Homo sapiens: one gene and its partners. The protein of the gene in region 3 interacts with the protein of the main gene of each other region in a biochemical or structural test. Each region holds a gene or a part of one and is shown on either strand. Other genes may lie near its edges. The genes, in order: ZMYND11, ERC2, MYB and MAF.

Evidence for each region.
Region 1: the proteins of MYB (region 3) and ZMYND11 form a complex in vitro, tested with the Homo sapiens proteins (one study listed by BioGRID).
Region 2: the proteins of MYB (region 3) and ERC2 form a complex in vitro, tested with the Homo sapiens proteins (one study listed by BioGRID).
Region 4: the proteins of MYB (region 3) and MAF form a complex in vitro, tested with the Homo sapiens proteins (one study listed by BioGRID).

What each region holds. Positions count from the first base shown.
Region 1 is NC_000010.11:250,210-255,553, reverse strand, and holds the end of ZMYND11 (zinc finger MYND domain-containing protein 11), read right to left. Parts: intron 3,207-5,344; coding exon 3,084-3,206; 3' UTR 917-3,083; downstream 1-916. UniProt on the Homo sapiens protein: Chromatin reader that specifically recognizes and binds histone H3.3 trimethylated at 'Lys-36' (H3.3K36me3) and regulates RNA polymerase II elongation. Does not bind other histone H3 subtypes (H3.1 or H3.2).
Region 2 is NC_000003.12:55,507,533-55,513,850, forward strand, and holds the end of ERC2 (ERC protein 2), read right to left. Parts: intron 3,745-6,318; 3' UTR 779-3,744; downstream 1-778. UniProt on the Homo sapiens protein: Thought to be involved in the organization of the cytomatrix at the nerve terminals active zone (CAZ) which regulates neurotransmitter release. Seems to act together with BSN. May recruit liprin-alpha proteins to the CAZ.
Region 3 is NC_000006.12:135,190,904-135,198,564, reverse strand, and holds part of MYB (transcriptional activator Myb), read right to left. Parts: intron 6,242-7,661; coding exon 6,007-6,241; intron 4,728-6,006; coding exon 4,647-4,727; intron 4,210-4,646; coding exon 4,105-4,209; intron 3,606-4,104; exon of another isoform or gene 3,484-3,605; intron 2,818-3,483; coding exon 2,563-2,817; intron 1,840-2,562; exon of another isoform or gene 1,657-1,839; intron 1,605-1,656; coding exon 1,242-1,604; intron 1-1,241. UniProt on the Homo sapiens protein: Transcriptional activator; DNA-binding protein that specifically recognize the sequence 5'-YAAC[GT]G-3'. Plays an important role in the control of proliferation and differentiation of hematopoietic progenitor cells.
Region 4 is NC_000016.10:79,593,338-79,598,398, forward strand, and holds the end of MAF (transcription factor Maf), read right to left. Parts: exon of another isoform or gene 1,217-5,061; coding exon 1,123-1,216; 3' UTR 501-1,122; downstream 1-500.

The DNA of each region.
Region 1 (5,344 bases), on a different chromosome or scaffold from region 3:
CTCGCTGTGTTGCCCAGCCAGGCTGGAGTGCAATCGGGTGATCTCGGCTCACTGCAACCTCTGCCTCCCAGGTTCAAGAGATTCTCCCGCCTCAGCCTCCCAAGTAGCTGGGATTACAGGCACCTGCCTTCATGCCCGGCTAATTTTTTTTGTATTTTTGTACAGACAGGGTTTCACCATGTTGGCCAGGCTGGTCTCGAACTCCTGACTTCAGGTGATCCACCCACCTTGGTCTCCCAAAGTGCTGGGATTACAGGCATGAGCCACCACGCCTGGCCGACACCTCATTTTTGAGGACCAGTAAGCCTGTTGCTTAGGAAAATATATCTAGAAGAACAAAGACAAAATGAGGGTGAATAGAATGATACTACTACTACTGTTGGAAACTTTACAATCCTACAGGAACTGGGACTTTAATATTCAGACCTAAACCATCTGATCCCAGTTGTGATACGTCTATCACATGAATGATGAATGATGGCATGAATGATGAAAACCAGAGTACCGACTAAGGCTGGGTTAATGTTGGCACTAAGACCTGGGGCTGGTCAACTACCCACAACTACCATACCAAGAAGTAGATGAAAACAGCAGAGGGTTAGCCTCAGCTGGCCTCCAATTAAGAATCTATTCCATTCTGAGTTGTGTATCTGTTTTTCAGGCTGATTTGCAATAATTGATATGCAGCTGATATAATAATCATCCTCTCCTTATTATATCATGTATGGTCTTTTTGAGATCTGGTGAAAGTAAATTCAATTTATACGTTTAAGTGAACAAATGATGTTTAACACACTGATTTTATATAAAGTTAAGCAGTCACTAAAGAGTGACCCACAGTATGTGATCAACATTTAGCGACGGTAGTATTTGGTTGGGTATAGGGGACTACACTAAATAAACAAATTACTAAAGCTAGTTTTTTTTAAATACATTTATTAACCAATGTTAACACATTAAATGAATCTATATATTGCTAGTCAGAGCAGCTTACAAAATGCCAGAATGCATCATAGAACTGGACAGCCACAATGAATAATTACAATGTGCATAGTGGCTAAGCTCAACACCTCGATATAGCTTTATGATTTGCAGAAAATTTTTAATAATGATTCCTAAAACAATCAATTGTAATTTTACCTAAAACTTTTACAAAACCAGGCCACAATCTCTTTTTTTAATTTTGTTTTTTTTTAAACACACAGTTTTCACGCTGTAGTAACTTGGAAATGTGCAACCGTGTCAACAGAGACAGAAAAGCCAAAGTAACACGAATCTCACTTTCATGCAGCTATCAGTTAAATATTACATACTCTGGAATGATTTTACACCAAAAATATTTCCACAATTACTTGCTCTCATAGGGGTGGATCGAAGTCTTAAAACTTGAAAAACAATCAAAGAAGGTTAAGTGTTCTCGGTTCTGACATCTCCATCAGCGCCACACACTGTGGCAACACTGACTAATTACACAGCAACAAGGAGGGAACGATGATGCCAAGTTACTGCATAATTTAGGTACATTGTATGAAATGGGGCTACTGGGTACTTTTTACAAAATATTGTGCACCATTTGGCAGTAGTTTGTCAATTAACTTGTGTCACCACCATCTGCAACAGCATCAAGATTAGATGGATGATATTTCACAGAAGACTTAGTTACATTTTTATCTTTAGAGTGACCCTGACAAACCTGGAGAATACTTTTTAAAAGGCTTTTCTCCTGATTCTTTCACTTCCATTGTGAGTAATTGCTTTAATAAATATCAAAGGTCTAAATAAATATGTACAAATTATTCTCTAACCTCAAAAAATAACTAAATGATAAATGGGAATTTGACTTGGTCTAAGATCAGTCTTTAAAAATACCACATAAATTGTGAGATATTTTAAAAGAAAAGTAATTTAAGTTTTCCTGGCTGTATTTTATATATCTATGTATAAAAAATCATTATTCAACTATCGATCCATTCCTATTGGTAATGCTTCTTAATCCAGACATTCCGCAAAATACAGACTTTTTACAAATCACGGCATCTTTAATACAAGAAAATTAACATGCATTATTCTTCATTCTGTGTACAGTGATGGAGTTCATTAGTAGGCAATGACCCATTACTACAAACATAACGGCTTCTGTGAAACTTAAGTGCTTTCTCTTCTTTTAGTATTAACTTACGATACATGAGGTGACACCAGATAATAGGCAGTGAGATGATATGTGGGAAGGGAAGGGAAGCATTAAACAAATTCGTATGCCTCATCTATAATTTCACATATGGATAAAGGTAGTTTTTGGCTTTGTTTTTGTTGTTTATTTTGTTACAAGCACTCATGTTAGGACAAAGATGAAATGTGCAAACTTTAAAATTTAAATATTCATTTTCTCTAAGATCCAGCTCAGTAAAAGATTACCCCAGTTCCCTGCAATTTTAAACTACAAGATCAAAGCTAATAATTTGTTATAAAAGTTATATATTGAAAAGAAATAATGAAAAACACAATTGGGAAATATTTAAGAAAAAATATGCAGGACTAGCCCTGCTGTGTCAACCCTGTTCCCTAAATTCAATCATATACCCACTGGTGTGACCAACAGATAATGCCTTTGAACAGTAAATTAAGCTGAACAAAACCAGCTCAACAAGGTTAAGAAAAAAATGTCACATCAAGGTAGTATGTTTTATTTCTGAAACAGTTCTGTAGTTCTTACATTCAGATCTATTCTAAATGTTTCTTTGTTAAACTCACTTGTATTCACCTGTTTTTTAAAGATCTGTTGTTTAAAGGTTAAAATCTCTGTAAAACCTAAAAATGTTTTAAAATTTGCTGAAAATGCAACAAATTCTCAATTAAAATTTATTTAAAATAATACCCTCCACTGATGTTACTTTTACCCCCTGAAAAACTTCGGAGGAGCATTAACAAAAGATTTAAACTACTGTGCAAAATTTCTTCACGAAAAGTGTTTAAAGGCTGGTGCAAAATGGGAAGCAAATTCTAAACAATTTTGGCTTCTTGGAAACAAAAACCGCTGTGTCTGAAAAGAGTAATCATCGGGGTGACTCCGGGAAGGGCCAGCTTCATCTTTTCCGGCGGCAGGTGCGCTTGTGCTCCGCGTGCCAGTGCTCCTGCTGGCACTTGATGGAGCAGTAGGATGTGTTCCAGCAGCAGTGGTACATGGCCTCCTCCTCACAGTTGTAGCACTGCAGGTAAGAAATCGGGGCAGTCTTTAGACTTGGGTGTGGATGTGTAAGCGACTGGTTAAAATGGCAAACTCTTGAGGTGGTGCTTTTAAAAGATCTTTCTGGCTCAACCTTTTGTGGAATCTGAATACGTTTTATGCACAGCAGATGGAAAGGGAGCCCTGGGGATGACTGCAGCTCATGCCTGGTTGTCAGCAAACTCAAGCTGCTGTCAGGTGGTACCTGACACCTCCCGTTTTTTCCATCTCTGTGAGAGTCATTCCCGTTTCTTTTCTTAAAATGCTCTTGACTTCACATCCCTTTCCAGCTACCACTTGCATTTCTCTGCTCCCCACAAGCTCCTTGAAAGACTTGCCTAAACTCCCTATTTCAAATTCTTCTCTCGTCGTTAACATACGCTGCAGTCTTTACTCATACCATGCCACTAATATGCTGCTAGCAGGGTCACTTACAACTTCAAATCTAGTGGCCAAGTCTCAGTCTTCATCTTATTTGGCAATGTCTGGAGATATTTTTGACTGTCACAACTTAAGGGCAGAAGGTACTACTGGCAGACAGAGGCCTGGGATGCTGTTAAACATCCCACCATGTACACCTCCCCCAAAGAATGTTCTAGTGCAAGGGTCCATATACCATGGTTGAACTCTTTGGTCATGGGAGAAGAGAAGAGTGAAAAAAGTAAAGCTAAAGTTCCAAGCTGGGTTGGTGAACTAACAGTAGTACCATGAACAGACACCCACAGTGAGGCAAGGAAGATGAGAGACCTTCTGGATGTAAACAAACACTTGACAACAGGTCAGTATAAATATGAAAGTTCTGTAGATAGACACATGCAGATCTGACGGCTGTTGAGAGCCCTGGAGGAAGAACCCAGGGAGACTAGCCTACATTTGATACCTAAACATTCTAATTTCCTTCCTGTGTATTGTGTGCATTATTATCCATTATGTCAGCAAGTGCACCTTCAGAAAAATCCCCATTAGGTGCAGAGTCAGTTTTGGAAACGGCTTGGATGAGGCGTGTCGGGATTCACATCTGGGGTCTGTGCCACCCACTGGTCATGTGGCTTCAAGTTATTTAACTTCTTAGTTTCCTCATCTTTCAGACTTTACACAGCACCACCATCCCTTCTCCCAAATACCCTATTATTTCGTTTTCAATTTCTCCCTTTCTGGGGATATATTTAATGGATACATCTATCTGTGTTTCTCGTGACATCCATTATTCGGCATCTGGCATACCTACATGCTTTCTGTCCTATAATACTACTCTATTTCTTACAACAATGTAAGATGTAATTGGGAAGAAAGAATTCTTGATTCTTTGAGAGTGAGTCTCGCTCTGTCGCCCAGGCTGGAGTGCAGTGGCACAATCTCAGCTCATTTTGATCTCTGCCTCCTGGGTTCAAGAGATTCTTCTGCCTGAGCCTCTCAAGTAGCTGGGGTTTCAGGCACACACCACCACGCCCGGCTAATTTTTGTATTTTTTGTAGAGATGGGGTTTCACCATGTTGCCCAGGCTGGTCTCAAGTGATCTGCCCACCTCGGCCTTCCCAAGTGCTGGAATTACAGGTGTGAGCACCGAGCCTGGCCGAGAAGAAAGAATTCTAACCCTTTTACTAGAATGTGATGAGCACAAAAAGCTCAGCTCTGCCAACTAGGTTTTTAATCATTCTATTTAATCTCATAAGCCTCAAATTCTTCATCTTAAAGAAGAGTACAAAAATACCCACTTTAGCTGTTTCACAAATGGTAAAGTGCTACAAAAGACAGTATTATAATTATAGCCTCTTCTTCCCATTTTCTTGATTCTTTAGTAAACTTAAGAGATTTCTACTCATAAGAATTTTTTAAGAGACAGGGTCTTGCTCCATCGCCCAGGCTGGAGTGCAGTGGTGCAATGACACCTCTCTGCAACCTTGCACTCCTGGGCTCAACCAATCCTTCCACCTTGGCCTCCCAAAGCACTGGGACTACGGGCATGAGCCACTGCACCTGGCGTCTTTGGGTGTTGTGCTTCTGTTATCTTCAGCACACCTTAATTCCCATCTAATGATATTGTGAGAGTTGATCACACAAATTCAGTCATTCTTGTCATACCCAACTAAAACTGAGTTGAGAAGCTGGGGGGAGAAGCAC
Region 2 (6,318 bases), on a different chromosome or scaffold from region 3:
ACGATTGTGTGTGTATCCAAGTGGTGGCAGGGCTAGCTAGTATTTTTGCCTGCCTAGCTTTCTTGTCCCTCTCTTCTAGAATAGAATCCATTTTCCCTTGTTGGAAACTGCTCCCCCCACCCCCACCAGTGAGGCTGTCAACCACATGGCCTTGAAAAAGGTAATTGTTTGCATGATCCAAAAAAGAATCACCAAGTGTCCCTTTAGGGGACAGATGTAGATGTAGCTCAGAGAGTTAGTCTCTCCTCTAAAAATCAAAAGTACTCAAAGCTGTTGGAAGTCATCTTTACAACCAAGTGGAGAGAGCTTACCAGAGTCCAAAGCCAACCCAATAGAAAGTGCAGAGGGAAACAGGGAGAGAAGAAGGAGGGGAAAGGGAGAAGAAGGGGAGAGGGAGGGAGAGACAAGAAAAGGGAGAAAGAAAAAGGGAAGAGACAAAAGATGAGAAGGAGGAAGAGAGGGAGGGATCAGGAGAGACAGAGGAAGAGATTGAGAGAGTGAGAAAGAGAAAGGTAAAAAGAGAAAGGAAAGAAGAAAGGAAGAAGGGAGACAATGACAGTAACTTAAATTTCCTAATGTGAACTTCTGATTTTCTAATTTGAACCTCTAGATCCAGTTGTACATAAAGGAAGACTTACGTCTTTGCCTTTCCAGTTAAATGAGCCAATGACTTCCCTTTTTACTTAAGTCCATAGGGTTCTTCAAATGGGGATCCATGACCCTCAAAATGTTAGAAACTGCACAATTGGAGCATTTATTAGAGATAGAATGAACTCACTTCAGAAAGAAACAAGGTTTATTTGATGAATATAAATAAGGCGATCAGCACAAAGTACTTCTCATACACATGACAACAAATTTATGAACTGTACATACCTTGTACATTGTTCTACTAGACACGAGGTTACAATGACTGGCTAATACATGCCCACTGGTAGTTTCCAGGGTTCCTTAGTTTTATTTATTTATTTTTCATATCGATGTCCATAATCACATGGTCAATATCACAACCCACATGCCACTCACTTGAAGAAATATTACAAGAAGCACTATCAAACGAGGGTCTCGGGGAATTAGATACACTGACCCTGGGCAGCATTCAATCGCCACTCTACACAAAAACATTGCAGATAGAGCTTACGTCAACACATCTGAGGTCTCGTCATAAACACTGTTTAAAAAGTAAATTGAAACCCACTTTCAAATGAAAGTTGACACGCTGTTAACGTGCATACTGGATACACAAAAATCATTAAATACAAAATTGAGACTGTACATCGAAATCAAATGGGGTATAAAGCACAAGCCTGCTTTTGCACAAAGTAAGACCAACTTCTCCTAAATGTTAGCCCAAACTTCTTTTTTCAACTATGTTATGATTAGAAGAAAACCTGTTAAAGTTTGCGCAAAGGAAATAGCTTCCCAACATCACAGTGTTTGTTGTAAACCCAGAGACTATTCTTAATATGTGAAAAAGGGATATTTTTGGTAACCCCCAAACATCAGAGAATATTACACGAAATGGGAAAGGTTGTTATGTTAGAGAGAATTTAATTTTTAAGGGACTAAATTATACGACCTCATAAAGGTAAGATCAGTAATATTTTAACCAATGAAAGTTGGGCAGAAAATGATCCCTCCAAACAAGAGCTGTGACAAAATTGGCACATACATAGAAATAGCTAGCTATACATGGGTTGGTTTTTTTTTTCTGTTTCAAGGACCCTATTTTCCCTACTGGATTTCCTACTTCCTACTTCAAGTATTCAGTTGCAGAGTTCAGGTCAAGACCTGGTTGTAGGAGGCAGTGAGAACCACTTCTTTGAGGACATCCAAACTGTTCACTGGGACACATTTGTGGCCTGGGTTTTCAGTGCAACATTGTGTCAAAATGTGCTAAATAAGCTTGCAAAGAACTCTGCTTACTTCTCTAACCAAGACCTAGATCCCTCTGATAGTTAAAGGACAAACTTTTAAAACATGAATGCATTTGGATTGTTTATGCAACACATAAGCATTACATAGTTTGTTATACTTACTGATGACAAGAACAAAGCCAGAAGCAAGAAACCTGCTTGAGTATCTTAACCGCGAATGCACCAAGAAAGAATGGTGCAACTCAGGGACGGTTTCATCTTCCCCGACAAATAAGGTGTTTGTCTTTTAAATATCTCTATGGCTCACAAGAGAGGTCCAGAGTTAATTGCACCAACATTTTAAAAAGTAATAATAATGACTAAATTCAATGCAAGACTTCAGGGACATCTGTTTAGAATCCTTTCCACAGCAGCAAAGAAAGACAACTATATTTATTAAGGCCACTCATGCTTAAATTCACTGTTTGTCCTTTAAAAATGCAGGTTTTCATCTCCCACTTGCATACACGTGGAAGGGTTTCTTCCATTGACAAGAAAATGGAGCAATACAAGAGTTGCACATGTTTGCCAGACTCAGTCATGAGTTTTATGAAGTTATAACAATTTAAATTGTTTCTTAATATTCAGAGGAAGCAGTAGGAGTTTAATTCTCCTTAGTACCATATCACTGTATGTAAAAGACCTCAAAATTTGGTCTTTTTCCCTGGCATGTGCTTTAAATAATGACTGTATCCACATACATGTTGTGTAGAGCTATATACAGAGACACAGCTTTTGTGATTGTTCCTCATTCATCAATGTTTTCATGTTTGATGCTGAAAATGCTTTGGAATCCATGTTGCAGACACATTTTCTTTAAAAAAAAAAAAAAAGAGAAATGACCCTTCATTTACAGAAAATCTAAGCTTACACTGTTTGCACAGCATTTGGATCTTGAAATGTGAATGAGTCCCAGCTTCTTCATGGAGACCTGCATGCACCGGGATGGTAAGAGTCTGAGGCTTGGTGGCGTCCCCACCGTGGGGATGTGCAGAACACAGGGACTAGAGATATGCAGGTGCCTCAGACTTTTGCCACTCTCCAGTACATGACTGGGTAGATAAAATTATGAATGATCAATTTAGATGTGCCACGCATTGTCAGAGACACACACCATGTTCTCATAAGGCGATTTCTTGGCAAGCATTAGTGGTTTAAAAAATTGATTTCTTTTCCAACCTGGCCCAGAGGTGACTACTGGTTACACCCTCAAAATGCGGTTCTTCAAACAACAGATTAAAGAAATAGAGGAGGGTAAAGGCTCGCAATTTTTGGTGTTTTTTGTTTCTTCGTCAAACACTCCATGCATCATGGTATACAAACACTGCCAACACCACTCACTCACAGCGAATTTATACTTTTTGATAATCTAATGCATTAGGAATGACCAATTAGAGTGAACCAGCAGGATACTGGAGATGAGGCTAGTTGTCCAACAGAAGCTGAATCCACAGATAAAATCCCATGGAGTTCAAATTTATCCAATGATGTTTAAGTAACATAAACAAAATGTTATCAAATAATGACATTCAGCAAAGATGATCACATTCAAAATGCCCGCATCCCAACAAAAATGGAGGATCTGTCACTTTTCTCCTCCTCTGCATTCTTCCTTTCCATCATAACCAAATCCATGAGAAATGACATGAGGTGGTGAAGGAAATATCAAGTAGAACAGAATCACGCTCAATAAGGTAAGTGAAAACTCCCCTTCAGTTCTGATGAGCCGCTCCAGGTGGTGGTGGACAGTGATGTGAGCCGCACTGCAATACATTATCAGAATATTGCTGCAGAGCTGCATGTTCCCTTTATTCAGCCCTTCTAATAGCTGCAACAAGAAAGCACATAATTTAGCAGGGGAAGAAACTGGCAACAATATCTGAGATAATCCTGGCAGAACGTTTCCCACTCTTCACCCCTACAACAGCCTCTCCACCACTCTCAATGGTTGGGGTTGGGTGGGAGTGGGGAGGGGGTAAGGGGAAGAAACACAGAGGAAGGACAAAGGAAACAGAAAGATAAACTACGTCCTGCAAGTGCATCTGAGAAGAGGCCTCTTTCAAAATATGTCACGTATATGTATAAATGTCTCTTGATATACAAAAAAGGAAATTGAAGGGAAATATGCCAAAATGTTCCAGTGATTATTTCCACATAATCGGACTATATGTCAACTTTTATTCTCTCTACGCTTTTCTACAATGATGATGTTTTTAAAATTATTTTTTAACTTGATTTTATGGAGATTAAAGAATTAAAGGTGGTTAAGATATCAGAGAACTTAGCATGCACTTAAAAACCAACCAAACATAAATGTGACAGTCATCCATTTGTCTATTTACTGCCCTGGGGAACAGGTATCCAGAAGCACCCCAAGGTTTCTCACTGTCCCAGTGAGGGGCCCAGAGTGTGGATACAACTGCATCCTGGGAAGCAATAGTGCAATGAGTGAGAAGGGGGATCCCTCCCACACTACTGCTTCAGATGAGGACTTTCTTCCCTGCTGATGCTCAACTTTGTGTGCCTGTGCCATTATCATTCACATATGGCCTGTGAGTGCTTCTGGGTTTCCAGCCACATGAGCTCAGCTATCTGGGAAATATGGCAGGGAGAGGAAAGATCAAACATACACACACACACTCGTGTACACACAAGTCACCTTGTATATATATCCTGAGCTGTCTCATTTGGTGGTTGATATGCAGCATTTTTCGAGTCACGCCGACTAACAAGAATGCCAAAGATCCCAGTGTCTGCACAGGTAGCCAGCTATTTCAAGCCATCGTTAAGTAGTGCAAATGAAATATGTGGCTTGGATGAACTCTGCTAATTCATACTCTGAGGACTTTGGTGTAACCCTTCTGGTTAAGAAACTTGAATCGGGGCAAAAAAATGACTTTTGCAGAGCCAGAAAGTTAGGGAGTTCCTAGAGCAGATCATATTACTCATTCTGGCACATAAACTCTCTGCAAACTTTGTATGAAAATTGTAAGTCAGAGCACGCTTTCTGTTTCATGAGCTGTGCATAGCTCTAATTCTTTTGTGCATTAAGCATTTCTTAATCATCCTTTTAAAGGGCTGACCAATATATTAAAAGGCCACATGATTAAAAGGTAAAGAGAAACCCTAAGTAGTATTAAAATGCACCAGTCTTTTGTTTTGTTTTGTTTTACAGATGAAAAATAATTACAGTGAATGTCTGATGTCCTTGATGTTTTTCCAAGATAAAGTAGCAAAGAACAGTCATTTATTCAGTTGTGAGAAAGATTTCCAGCTGGGCAGCAGGTCACAAGGCAGAATACAATGCCCCACAATTGCAGCAAACTGCTTTTGGGTAAGGTTTATGCTGGAGACAAGAGAATTCTCAAAAAGTGTAGCCATTCTTTCAATCGAACAATCCATTCACCAGGAGGCCTAAATGGCTTTAAGGAAAAAAAGAAAAACAACAAGGAAACCTCAAGTGACACCGCCAGCATTTAGAAATGCAGATGATCCCTTCTGGGGGGGCAAAGAAGCATATGCTTTAAAAATAAAAATAAAAAACGAATCCTGGCTTCCAGCAATGAGCCAATCTGGGCTGCCACCCACTGTGAGATGATCCCTGGCCAGTCCTCCCTCACCTGGACAGTCACAGCGGCCCTTACCCTTCTCCAGCTTCCTCTTACAGCACCCAACTCTGCGCTTTCAACGCAGCAGCCAACAACAGCGCCATTTCAATGGTGACATCCAGTCCATAGTGCATTCCCGTTTACAGTTTACAACTCCTGTTTACAACCCTGTTTATAATCCCGTTGCCCTGAGAATGCAGGACTGATGGACTCCTGGCCATACTGGCGAGGCCCCATCTGGCCTCTCTCTCTGCAGTCCTGTACTTAACGCTGACATTCCACTCTTTATGTTCCACCAAAGCTGAGCTTGCTTCTGCAGCCCTAAAAATTTATTTTCTCCCCCTCTCACAAGCGTGTCTCTCTATCTAACATGATTTACACCAGCTCTTTATCTGATCGATCCCTGTTTATTCCTCAGTTTCAGCTTGGATGTCATGTCTTCCCAAGAAGCCTTTCTTGACCCTCTCGGATGTGATATAGAGTGGGAAGTCTCACATATACTGCAGAGTCCCCTTCTGATGAATTGTCTAGACTTGTACATCCAATAGAGCGTGTGTGCATGTATGTATATATATATATACATATCTTTTATTTTAAGGCAGGGTCTTGCTGTGTCACCCAGGCTGGAGTGCAGTGGTGTGATCATGGCTCACAGCAGCCTCGACCTCCTGGAATCAAGCAATCCTCCTAGCTCAGCCCCTCAAGGAGCTAGGACTACAGGCACATGCCACCATGTCTGGCTAATTTTTGTATTTTTTTACAGAGATGTGTTCTCACTATGTTGCCCAGGCTCG
Region 3 (7,661 bases):
TAATAATTAATAGTTTCCTTTCATACTTTGTTTTTTCTCTTTAATAATCTATGAACCAAAATTAGTATTACAGAAGGTTTACATTATATGGAAAATTCTTGAATAATAAACTGTGTCTCTCAGAACACTAAAGTTCTGGGAAAAAACTAGGTGTTCCTTAAACAATTCCAAGGTAAAATAAATTTGGGAAACACAACATATCATAATCTCCTCCTGGAAATTCACAAGGCACAACGGCATATTAATAACTCTGAGAAGGCCTGCAGTTAAAAAAAAGAAAGTTTTTAAAGAAATGGGATCTCGCTATGTTCACCAGGCTGAACTTGAACTCCTGTGCTTAAGCAATCCTCTTGCCTTAGCTTCCCCAGTAGCTAGGACTACAGGCCCATGCCACTATGCCCAGCTAAGAAACCTACTTGTAACTTTGTTTGATTCAGTGTTTCCCAAATGTATATACCTATATCATACCTAAATCTGTTCTTAAAACAAATTCAACAGATACAATTGGAAAAATGTTTTAAAGTGCCAAATTATCTATTAATTTAATTATTTAAATAATTTAGGAACACAAATCTCTGATAAGAATTGTGATTTTCATGCCTTAAAAAAGCTGTATGAAATAAAAATATTCCTTGGCAAAAACTGCACTAGTAAAATAGTATGGCACAACTCAAAAGAGCCAATGTTGAGAAACTGAAATTAAAAATATGTTCTTTTCCTTAAGCATTTGTTTCTCATCCTCTTCCCAAACTCTTCCATTTAAAGATGAATTGGAACCTTTAAATTTTCTAGCTTTAAATTTTCTAGTTGCAACCCAAATGTTATATAAACACAATTTGGTTCCCTCCTCCCCTGGGTCAGTGAATCGCATAAGAATAAATGAACAACGAGGAAGAAATGATGTTAACAATTTTAAAGGGAGGGATCAGATGGGAGAAAAAGAAAGGGACAGAAATGTTAAACTCTAGTGTTGAAGGAAATAAAAGTACGTTTCATGCAACTATCTTTCAAAACCACCCAAAAGTAAAAGAGAGAGAATGATGCCAAAATCAACAGTTAGCCTGCAGACAGCCTAAACTTTGGGAGGCAGTATAACTTAGCAACAGCTAGATTCAACGACAGAATGAAATCAGCAAAGGCAGCAGTAATTAGTCATTTGTTCCGAAGTATTAGTTTCTAGATTATTAAGGCTCAGGTGTCTGTTGAAAATGAGTAACAGCTGTGCAGAAATTGTGTTCTACCTGCGAGGGAGAGAAGGGTAGGCTTTTGACAGGGGAACGCTTGGGAGTTGAACTGCTGACGTCAGCAAATATGAAGGAGCTACAGTCTCCAGTGGCTAAGGGGCTGGCCTGGCCCCGTTTTTTTCGAAGGATGACCAGTGGAATTGTGCTGTGCCTTGCAGGAGGTAAGACCTTGGGTGGGTCAAGTGAACTCTCACTCAACATACGTTTGTTCACCCTTGGGCTAGGTTCTCCTGCAGGTTTAGTCCCATTGCCCTCTCTTTGCTGAAGCTGTAGGGCTTTGCCTGTGTGATGTTGGCTAGGTGAAAAATCTGCTTCTTCAAAGAATTCAAAACTGCTGAGATCACACCATGATGAAGAATCCTGAAACAATGTGGGAGGCACAGAACTTTGAGATAGTGTGTGCCATCATCACCTGAAACAGCACTGAGAGAGAGATGCTCAACGCAAAGCAAACACTAGGCCCGTTGGTTTGGCTTCTTGAGCAACAGCTTCAAGATGAGCAGTTGCTCTATTATACTGCAGTAGAGCAGGGTCTAGTGGGCTGCCTCAAGGCTGGCCCTCTGATGTGCTGCAGGGACCTCCCGACACTCTACATCTGCATGCAATGGAAAGCAAAATGAAGACCTTTTCTAGATGGCATATTACGGCAATGGTCATCTCCTAACCAATGAGTGTGCAATAAATGATTTTTAATCAACTGGGAAAGGAACCAAGTGTTCGCTGAGGAGGTGCTGAATACAAATTTGTTTCACGAAAGATGATTCATCTCAGTGAAGCAATGGGACCAGTAATCAATAATCACCATTTTGTGGAAAGAGCCAGGTATGACCAAGGAGCTGATTATTACTTCAAATACACTAAAAGATTGCTTTCAGCTCTGAGTAAGCCAAATCATTAATGTGCTGTTCAAAAGCAAGACAAAATTCTAGAGAAGCACCATGAAGTAAGCAAAGAAAAAAAAAAGTTAAAAGTAACTCAAACACCATTCCGTTCCCATAATCCAAGCTCTGCTTTATAAGTCATCAATCTGACTATTTTTAAAAATATGACTTTTGAAGGAAAAGTGTGAAAATGTGAAAAAAAACTCTTCCTTCAAAAGTCCTATTTTGTAAGTATTTATAAATACTTTTGTCTCTCTCGGTAGGCTATGAAATCAGATCTTTGAAAAAACATATTCATGAAGATGAAAATCATACTTCTACCTTTACATTAATATATGCTAATAACAGCTTGGCTATAGAAAATGGCAATGATTTAAGAAATGGGTTTTCTAATTTATCTTCCAGAATCGTTAACTTCCCTTCACAATTCTACTTACAGAATCTATAAATTGGAGTGTTTCTGCAAATTCTAAGAGGTTCTTAACATTATCCAGAATGGTGCCCTGGTGGACGATCATGCACCTTGCTGGCGAGGCGCTTTCTTCAGGTAGGGAGCCAGGATCCGCTGGCAGAGATGGAGTGGAGTGGTGTTCTCCCAAACAGGAAACAGGTGCACTGTCTCCATGAGGTCTGGTGTGGTCGGCAATGGTGGTGCTGTGCCACCCGGGGTAGCTGCATGTGTGGTTCTGTGTCTAAGGAAGGGGGAAGGGTGTAGAAATAAAGAGAGGACAGAAGAAAGGGAGAAGGAACTTAGCAATGAAGTTGCACAAGGTATCAGATGCTGTTGGAGGAAAGATAAGAGTAGTTGCATCATCCCAAACTTACGCCTATGAAACAGTTGTCAAGATGTTTCCTTTTATCAATGCAAGACCCTGTTTTTAATAGTGCTAGAGGTTGTACCTATATGATTACCTTGTTATCATTTTGTAAAAATGTCAAATCATAGGTCTATATTTCGAAGTATAATTATCATATTGTCTTAAAATTCCACTTTAATATAATTTGCCAAAGGTCCATAAATGCTTGCTGTGAGTGAAGAACTGAAGAACTGTCCTATTTGCATTCTAACCACAAAAAAGCTAGAGGACTCAGGAGTTAGAGTTGCTTTGATCTACACATATTCTTGTTGCTTCTATCCCTTTCTAATGCTACAGATTGCACTGATGCAGTGAAGCACTGCCAAATCAACGTGGTTAGGAAAGCAGAAGAGCAAATTAACAGAAGTCTCCTTACAGTATGACCACACAACAGGAGAAATTGCAAAACATTAACTAAAGTTAAAAAGTGGTCGAACTAGCATGTGCACATAAACATCTTATTATTTAACAAAAAATAAATTTACCCCTAGGAATACCTACTGGGCATCACTTCTCTTTTATTGTCTTTGTTGGTTAACTATGTATGTTGCAAAGCACAAGGAGCCATCCCAGTTGGCTGCCCAGTCGCTAAAGATGTCAGAATTCAGTAATGGCCCACATAACTTTCACACATGCAAATAAAAGAGAGCAGCTAATGTTATTTATGAAGAGGTTTTATATATAACCTTTTACATGTATATACTGAACATGCATCAAATCATGTCTGAAATTATAAAATATGAAAATATAGGTTAACAAAATAATAGAAAAAAACCAAAATGGTACCATATAGATACATAGCTCTGTAGAAAATGCAGATTTTCATTCATTTTATCTTTGCTAGTCTTTAAACTGATTATAGTCCTTCTGAAGAAAAAAATTGATGATAACAATCATAAGTGGATATTGCATTTTTATTGCAATTACAAAAAGACTGCTTCCAATTTAATCAGCATATAATCTGATACCAACTACATTTTACTACAAGCAACTTCTTGTGTTGAGACATTCTGAATGGATATATGGAGCCTTGCTAAGTGTAATATTTAGAAGAGAAGAGCGCTTAGGTAAACTGAGGCAAAGCTGCTATCCCCTCATTCAAGCACATGATGACAGTCTTACTGGTAGCACCTGCTGTCCTTTTAGCTCATTCTCGGTTGACATTAGGAGCAATTCTAATTCCTTTATTCGCTTTTCCTTCTCAGGGTCTTCATCATTATAGTGTCTCTGAAATTACAAAGTAAGGGAAATAAAGACAAAGGTCTGATTGGAAGCTGCAAATACAATGGGTGTAGCCAATATGGTCATGAGGTGCCGCACAGCCCAAAGAGCCTCACTGTGACAACACCACCAACCAAATTTGGCTCCTGCAGAAATCTTTGTGAATGTTATTTCAGACTTAAGGGAGTGATGTGAAATCTCAGGCTAGAGTGGATGCTGACTGATGAGTTATTTCACCTTGCAACATCAAAGAATCAGAAAATTCCAGAGCAAACTCATTCTAGAAGACAAGATTAATAGATTGCTGGCCAAGACTCTGCTCTCCTCTCCATGTTCCCTTTCCTTTTTACTTTAGTTGCTCAGGTAAAAATATGTGTTTAGATGAAAGAAATAAGCATTTCTTAAAAGTGGTGCTTTGAACAGTGAATGATCAATGATCTTACCTGAATGGCTGCGGCAGCTGGCTGAGGGACATTGACTATATTTACATGTAACGCTACAGGGTATGGAACATGACTGGAGACCTAGATGCAAAAGACAAAACAAAGGCCACGTCATTCAGGGCTACATATGCTTCAGGGGACTTGGCTTCCTGAGGTTTCGTTCTGGGACTGAGAGAAAAAAAACACTTTACTGATAAAATACACTAAACAAATTTTTAAAACCTTTTAATGTGAAATTTAGCCAGGCCTTTAAAATGGCTAAACAGCTAAAGGAACATGGTGAAAAATCCTTGGGAGGTGTTGATGAGCACTTTAAATTTTGGGAAGTGTTCCTTAATTAGAGAAAAACACAATGAAAAAAACAATAAAAAATATATTATAAAATACATTAATGAATGTTTCAAAATTGTTTCTATGGGAAAAATTGATGGCACCAGCTGTTTGTAAATAAAAATATTTTTCTTGGAATAATTTTGAGTTTTAATAAAAAGCACAGGAATTCTTATGATAATTTATTCATCTGAGACCTTTCTGTAAAGTTTGTAGTCAAATCCATGGACAGAGAAGAATAAAAACTATTTATGAACATGTTTTGCATATAATTTGCATATGAGCTCTCTATTCTTGGGTAAGTTTTATCATTTAATATTGTTATTCTTAAGATTAAAGTTTCTCGATTTTTTTCCTCTTTCTTCTTCTTTTTCCACCTATTATGGATTATCACTTTCCCTAAATATAAATATCTAGAAATAAGGAAGGGATCACACTGATCCAACGGAGACTAAAAGGAGACATCAGAAAATGAATGTCACAAAGTTCTGCTCCTGACTCAGAGTAAGAAGGTAAACACTTACTGAGTGAATAAATTAAGACATGTCTGCCTGATCACTGCCAGAATGAAACATACCATAACCACTGAATTTCAGTGTCAAACTCTCTCCTCTTTAAACATAATACTACCTTCCCTTTTCGTTTTGGAAGAGAAAAACATTACATCTACAAATGCGACTCCATTCCCCTATTCTTCAATAGTACCTTAAGTAAATTTACATTCAAAGGTTGCCTTCAAATTAGATTTGAAGCAGCAATTTAGAATCGGACAGCTCGTTTTCTAGTCAGCACTATCTCTATGAGCTGTGTCACCCTGGGCAAAGCGCTTACCATCCTCGTTTCTGGAGACATAAACCAGGGGTAACACACCATACCTACACCCTATCTACTTCAAAGGGCATAGGTGAAGACTGGCCATGATCATGCTCAGGAAAGTTCTCTGAAAAGTATACAACTGCAAAGTATGATTATTACCTGGAGCTAAACTAACCGTCTCTCTCATTAAACTAGATTCACAGGAATGGCTTACATTTTGTGCTTCAGAAATGTGGTAATAGGAATAGTCGTTGTTAACAGTGGGCTGGCCAGTGGCAGGGAGTTGAGCTGTAGGCGGAGCCTGAGCAAAACCCATCAAATGACTGTTCTTCTGGAAGCTTGTGGCCACTGCTGGCTGGCTGGCTTTTGAAGACTCCTGCAGATAACCTTCCTGTTCGACCTTCCGACGCATTGTAGAATTCCAGTGGTTCTTGATAGCATTATCAGTTCTGCACAGAAATATATCACACAAATTTCACAAACAAAAATTTCAATTCAGATTAAAGTGAATTGACAGAAAACTGTTTCTAACAGAGACCTTTCCCTTGGGCCTATTAGTTGTTTTCTCTTTTTAATTGTTTCCTTCTTCTCCACCCTCTGAGATCAGGCTTTCTCTATTGCCTAGTTAGATTTCTCTTAGTTACACAATCTGGAATGCATGTCGTTTTCTAGAAATATCAGTATCTTTTAACCATTCCATTTCCTTGGTAAAGGAGTATTTTCAATACGATAACGCTTCATGTTTATTCTGACCGGTCGCGGTACAAGACTCCAACACAATGTAAAGTTCCAGCTGCCTTGGGGAAATTACTCCTTTGAATGTGGCACAGCAGGGCCTACACACCACGAGAGGGACATGGTGAAGTCTGGTGGATGATAAGATGCTGCTGATGAAGAATACTTCACTCTTTATCTCTCAAAGCACTAGTGAGAACTTCTGAGACCAAAAAACCTCCTACTCTTTGAAAGCCACCCCAATTGTTTTCTGAATCAGACAGAGACGAGAGTGGAAAATGGGATCCCAAAGGGAAAGATCCTAACCCCCAGTATATTTTCAAAAGGCAACGCATTTTTACTAAAGTCTTTCCATTCTCAGGAAAACAGTTTCTCAATTCAAAAAAACCGTTTAAGTCTCCCTTTTTCTATTTCAATGGGGGTGGGGGAATGTATGCTAAAGAAAGAGGAAGTTCAATAGCCCTGTTAATTTTGAGAAGAATCAGCAGTGTATCCTCTCAGGCCATATGGGAGGAAAGGCCTTTTTTTACCAACCTCTTAAAATTTCTAAGTTTATACTGAACCACAAGGGTGCAAATGCTTTGGAGCATCACTAGAGAATACTATATAAACTTTCTCCTGGATTATGAAGCTCAAGAATAAAACTATTTTTAATATTTTTGATCTACATCATTTTAATGCAAGATTTATCATTAAAAGTATTGCTTTCCAAAGGAACAAAATCTGTTATATACTACTTAAGTGGGAAAAATGGGACAAAATGAGCTTCCATAGTTATCCCTCATAATGAGGTCATTTTCTTGCCTTGTTCATTAAAAAGAAAGCATTATTACCCTGACATTATTTAAAAACCTGGAAGTAGTATGAGAATTCAAGAAATACATTATTTCTTTAATCAATGAAGTAAAAAATTAAGCAAAGTGGTATAATGAAATGAATACTGGTGGCCAGGTATGGTGGCCCATGCCTATAATCCCAGCACTTTGGGAGGTGAAAGGATTGTTTGAGGCCAGGAGTTTGATACCAGCCTGGGTAACATAGCAGGATTCCATCTCTACAAAAAATATTTTAAAATCAGCTGGGTGTAGTGGGGTGCACCTGTAGTCCTAGCTACTCAAGAAGCTGAGGTGGGAG
Region 4 (5,061 bases), on a different chromosome or scaffold from region 3:
CAGCTACCGAGACAGCTGTGTGCCATGTTTGTGAGGGTGACCATGATCTGTCTTCTGTCCACTGCTTTTAGCAGGAAAACTGGCAGTGTGGCAAGGGGGTGGTTCTACTTCAGAACAGAAGTATCTAGAATTGGTGTTGCTAAGTAAAAATGACTGGGGTAAAGGCACAAGGGAGAAAAGATCAGAGCGTGAGCATCCTGCATTCAGTAATAAACAGCATTTCCCATCGGAGGGGTCTGTGTTGAAAGACTCCCAGGTAGTTATGGCTTTGAGACAGTGAGGAAATGATGTCTCCGTAGCAGATTTATTTGCCAGGCAAAAGTAGAATGTCTGCCTATTTGATGTCAATATATTAATGTGTCAGATACATTGTAAAAAATTATTACATGGTTTTTGAAAAGGGAAACATGCAAGAAGCCAGGGAAATGTAAAGGAGGTGATTTTTTTTTTTTTGAGTAGGAGCAAAAAAGAAAAGGGAGCAAAAAATCACACAGAGGGTGTGTATTTAACTAACTTTGTATTTTGCCACACATTGTTTTCATTTACAGCTATGTCTGACAAATGAGCACGTTTGACATCACTGATAAATGCAACACCGTCTAGGGCCTACGAGAAAACCAGGGGGCTCGGCTCCGCTGGAGCCTCTGCCCGTGGATTTGTTTAGGGAAGGGGAGTCGAATATCTATTTTTCTTCTTAGTAAAATTATCTGCCAGAGAAACAATGAAGCATGAAAAAGTACTATTTAGAATGTGCATGCCTATATATGATTTTAAAATGCTAATTGTTGCATTCCGGGAAACTTTCCATTATATATATGCATATATATGTATCTTTGTAATTTCAGTGAATTTTTAAAACTAGTATGGCAGGTTGAAAGCAATGCACCTGTTTACTTGCACACACCATAAATCGAAAAGCAGGAGTGCGCTTTCCTACCGGTCTCTATGAAACCCCCAGACAAGAGGCATAGTTAACTACTACATTTAATAGCCTTCTTCTCTAACACAGTAATTTTTATTTAAAAAGGAGACTAAACAGAAGTCAGGGGTAGGTGGTTCTCCATGACTGCAAATAATAATAATAATGATGATTTTTTTTAATGTACAGCTCTCACACAAATTTCATTTTGTGAACACACTGGTAAGTACACGATGCTGGGGCTTCCAAAATGTGGCGTATCCCACTGATGGCTCCAACTTGCGAGTGGGCTCAGTTCTGTAATTGGAATGAAAGGAATTTTAACACTATTTAGACAAAGATCAAACGCAGCGTAAAGGGGAAAGCTAGATTTCCTCATATGATTTTTTTTTTTTTAAATTTAGAGACTTATTGTAATGAATGGCACTTACTCAGGATTTAGGAGTTCTTTGTAAGAAAAAAAAAACATGTATTTGTTTGCTACTCCCACTATACTTCAAAGTTTTCAGTAATTGTTATTTCTAAAAATGCCTTTTACTAGGAGTTAACCTTCTCTTACAGCCAGCCACTCAAACCTCATTTTTGCCAGCACCTTTGCATTTGATTTTCTAAAGTTTGGGGGCCCAAACCTGCTTATTATATTCAACTACCTTGTAGATTCCTATCAAAATGCTTAATTCTACACAACTATATTTTCCTTCCAATCCAGGCCTCATTTGTCATGAGATAACTGCAATAACTACATCCAGAATATCACTCTTATTTTGAGAATGTTTGCCTAAAATCTTTCATCAGATGCTTTTTTGTTAAAAGCATTCTCTCCATTTCTGCTTCTTCAGAGTTTGTGTATCTCTTAGTTGTGATGAGGAAAAAAAAAAAAAAAGGAAAGAAATATCTGAAGTCAAGAACACTTGACTTCAAGCTCATGAGGGGAGGTTTACTATTAAGACTTTTGTTAAGCAAAATTAAGTGTGGATTCAGGAGCCTGTCTAAACTAGCACATAAAGGAAGGTCAAAATGTCGAGGTTACACACTGTCTTCGTGTTTTGTAAAAAATAGGCAGGAAGGCCAGATGATAAACTGGCCAGAACTTAGCAGCACCAAACACAACCTGTTTTCTTAAAAATAAGTCTTTCAGTCAGAGTTGCAATATTATCTTTTTTTCTTTTAAGAACGGCAGAAAACAAAACAAAAGTCATCGTGTTTGGCTGTATTTTCAAAACAGTGCTGGCTTTGTCTAACATTCTATTGGTGTGCTAGGGGAAGATGACTAAGAGTGCAAACTGCATGAATTTGTAACATTAGTTTCATGAATTTGTGTCATTTAAAAATAGGTCAGCGCTTAGGAGTCCTACTAGTGAAGGTAGTTTTGAGTCTTTCCAAGGGATCTTTAAGTCAGCCCCCATACACAGCCTATTTTGGGGTAAATACCAGTAAATCAAAGCACAGCCTATATTCCACACAGGTATTATTTTTTGCTTTTATTTCTGGGGATAGCATGATCTGAAATCATTACTAGCTCATCCAGGTAGAGAAGTTCTCCACTGAATATTCACGGTGAAATATGATTTGATAACATAGTTTAAACCAGATATGTACTTGGAAATATGGAAGTAAGGAGTGGATTTTCTTTTTCCTATTTAAGACAAATGATCTTCAGTGTTAAAGAGAAAAGCAAAACAAAACAAACAACTATGATTTGTCATGTTTATGTTAAATCTTGTCAGGCCTTGCTAACAAGAAAATCTCGGTGTGTAAGAGAAGAAGGAAAAATAGTCAACTTTAGTGAAAAGGCAAGCGCTGTTTCTCTTTACCGTTCAATGCATATGTGCGCAAGCCACCTCTGATGCGCCATATTTGTCCGGCTCCTCTGTCTATGGATGGCTTTGCTCCTGATCAGAAGTGTAGGGCCATGCTCAGGAAGCCTAGTTCCACTGTTTTGTTTTGTTTTTCCTACCAAGGGCAATTATGGCTCAACTCATTTGAAAACTGAAAACTTTGGGGAGAAAAAAATGAGGTCATAATTTACATCTATATTAAATATTGCTAATCAGTATATGGGGCCAGCCTCCTCACTTCAAAAAACAGCCTATAATTTCACCCTGAATTACTGTCTCCCTATTCCTCCAGGAATCCTTCCACTGGAGAAAAGGATGCATTTTACACTTTTAACGAGGTTGTTGGGCCCAGTTAAACTGTACACTAAGAAACTGAGTACAGAATCAAAAAAAAATGCCGTTTATTATTGTAGATTATTCTTTTCTTGATATAACCAGAATTGAAAATGAAAGAAAAGCACATAGGAACAACACGCGTGGTTAGTTAGTAACTCAAGATATAAAACAATTTTGCACAGCAAAATATGTAAAAGAAAAGTAACTGACAAGATTTTTTTATATTTATTGTGGTAAGATTTACTTTTCATTTCTTTTTAAAGACAGGATGTCAGTCCCTGAAAATAACATTTACTGATTATTGCCTTTAAAACTGTGGATTTTTTTTTAAGTTACAGAAAATCCAGTTCTGCACCACAATACAACTGTAAAAAAATCTGCATCATCTTAAAACTGTGCAGTAATGCCATTTTTATAACTGCATAAATTTTATTAGCGTTCTAAACAGTTTTGCAATTTTTTTTTGTATTATATGCTTGCAGGTTATATCTTAGTGCAATTCAGTCCCAAATACTTTAATTTTGAAAAGAAAAAAAAACATACATTTTTGAATGTAAAATACCCCTACAGATATAAACAGGGGCGTTTCCCCTCTTAATACTTTGGTTTTCAATACAGTCAGTGGTATAGCAAAGACTACACATACCCAACTTATATTTAAGTTGCAAGCACATGCTGTATAAGCTACTTTTTTTAAACAGTCCCCTTGCAAACTCTACCCCCCTTAACATCACAATAGTAAACAATTTAGTGCATCAATCGTTTAAAAAATCTACAGCTAAACAGACCTAACTCTTTCAAATTTATCTATAACATTCCTTTATCTGTAGCATACATTTTAACTGGGCTAACAGATTATAAAAACTAGAATTAAATTATATACTAGAAACCCAGAGCATTCCACATTTGACAATGACCAAAAGCCAAAAAATATAAAATAAAAATAAAACAAACCAAAAATAATGGGGCAGTTTCTCTTTTTAAAAAATAAATTTTAGACTGCTTCTCGGCAATAGCACAATTTTAGTCCCCAAAGTGGGGCGTCATTCTTATTAAAAAGAAAACATTAAGAGTTCTTCAATGTTTGCCAGGTTAAATGTGTAACCCATTCTGGTATCTTTGACAAGGAATGCCTTCAGTGCATTGGGAGGTTGAAGTTCTGAGTAACTCAAAGCAGTTTTGGAGCAGATGCAAAATTTCATGGGAAGAAGGCTCTACGGTTGCACTGTTTTGTTCTAAACTCAAAAAAGTCATGAGGCAATAAAACAAAAGTATGAATGCCATGCTATAAGTCTTCGAACGTCCATTTCCAAGCCAAAAGGAAAAAAAAAGGAAAAAATAATTATACCATACATGTCCAGCATGCAGGCTTTTTTTTTTTATTAATATAATGTCTCTTTTCCATAAAGTCTTTGAAACAGTTATAGTTCATTGTTGCTAAGACAAAGTAGCAAGCATAATAATGCATGAGATGAGAATGAGTTTTTTTAATGGCAGACTAAACTCTCAGATTTGGCATCACAAGGCCAAAACTCACAAGTCACACCCAGAAGGTTGATGCAGGCTTGATTGTGGAAGGTTCATGAGGATTTTTTTCTCTATTTTAGCATAACAATGCTAAAAAAAAAACCCGATGGAACTCGGCACGCTGCAAGTCTATAACATTTCACATTTTTTTTTCCTTTGCAAGCTCAATCTCACATGAAGAACTCAGGAGAAGAAAAAAAAACTTTGCTTTTTTTTTTCTTTCATCTCGGAAGAGATGGGTTGAGAAGGAGTGAGGGTGGAGGTTGGAAAAAAGGTGGGCAACACAGCAAGCTCTAAAAGTAAAATTAAAAAAAAAAATCCAAACAAAATAAAACACACACACACACAGAAAATGAACACCAGTTCATGAACTGAAGGGGAAGAAGAAGAAAAAATATGTGAATGATGCAGGCTTCAAAGGTGATCAACGTTTCACATGAA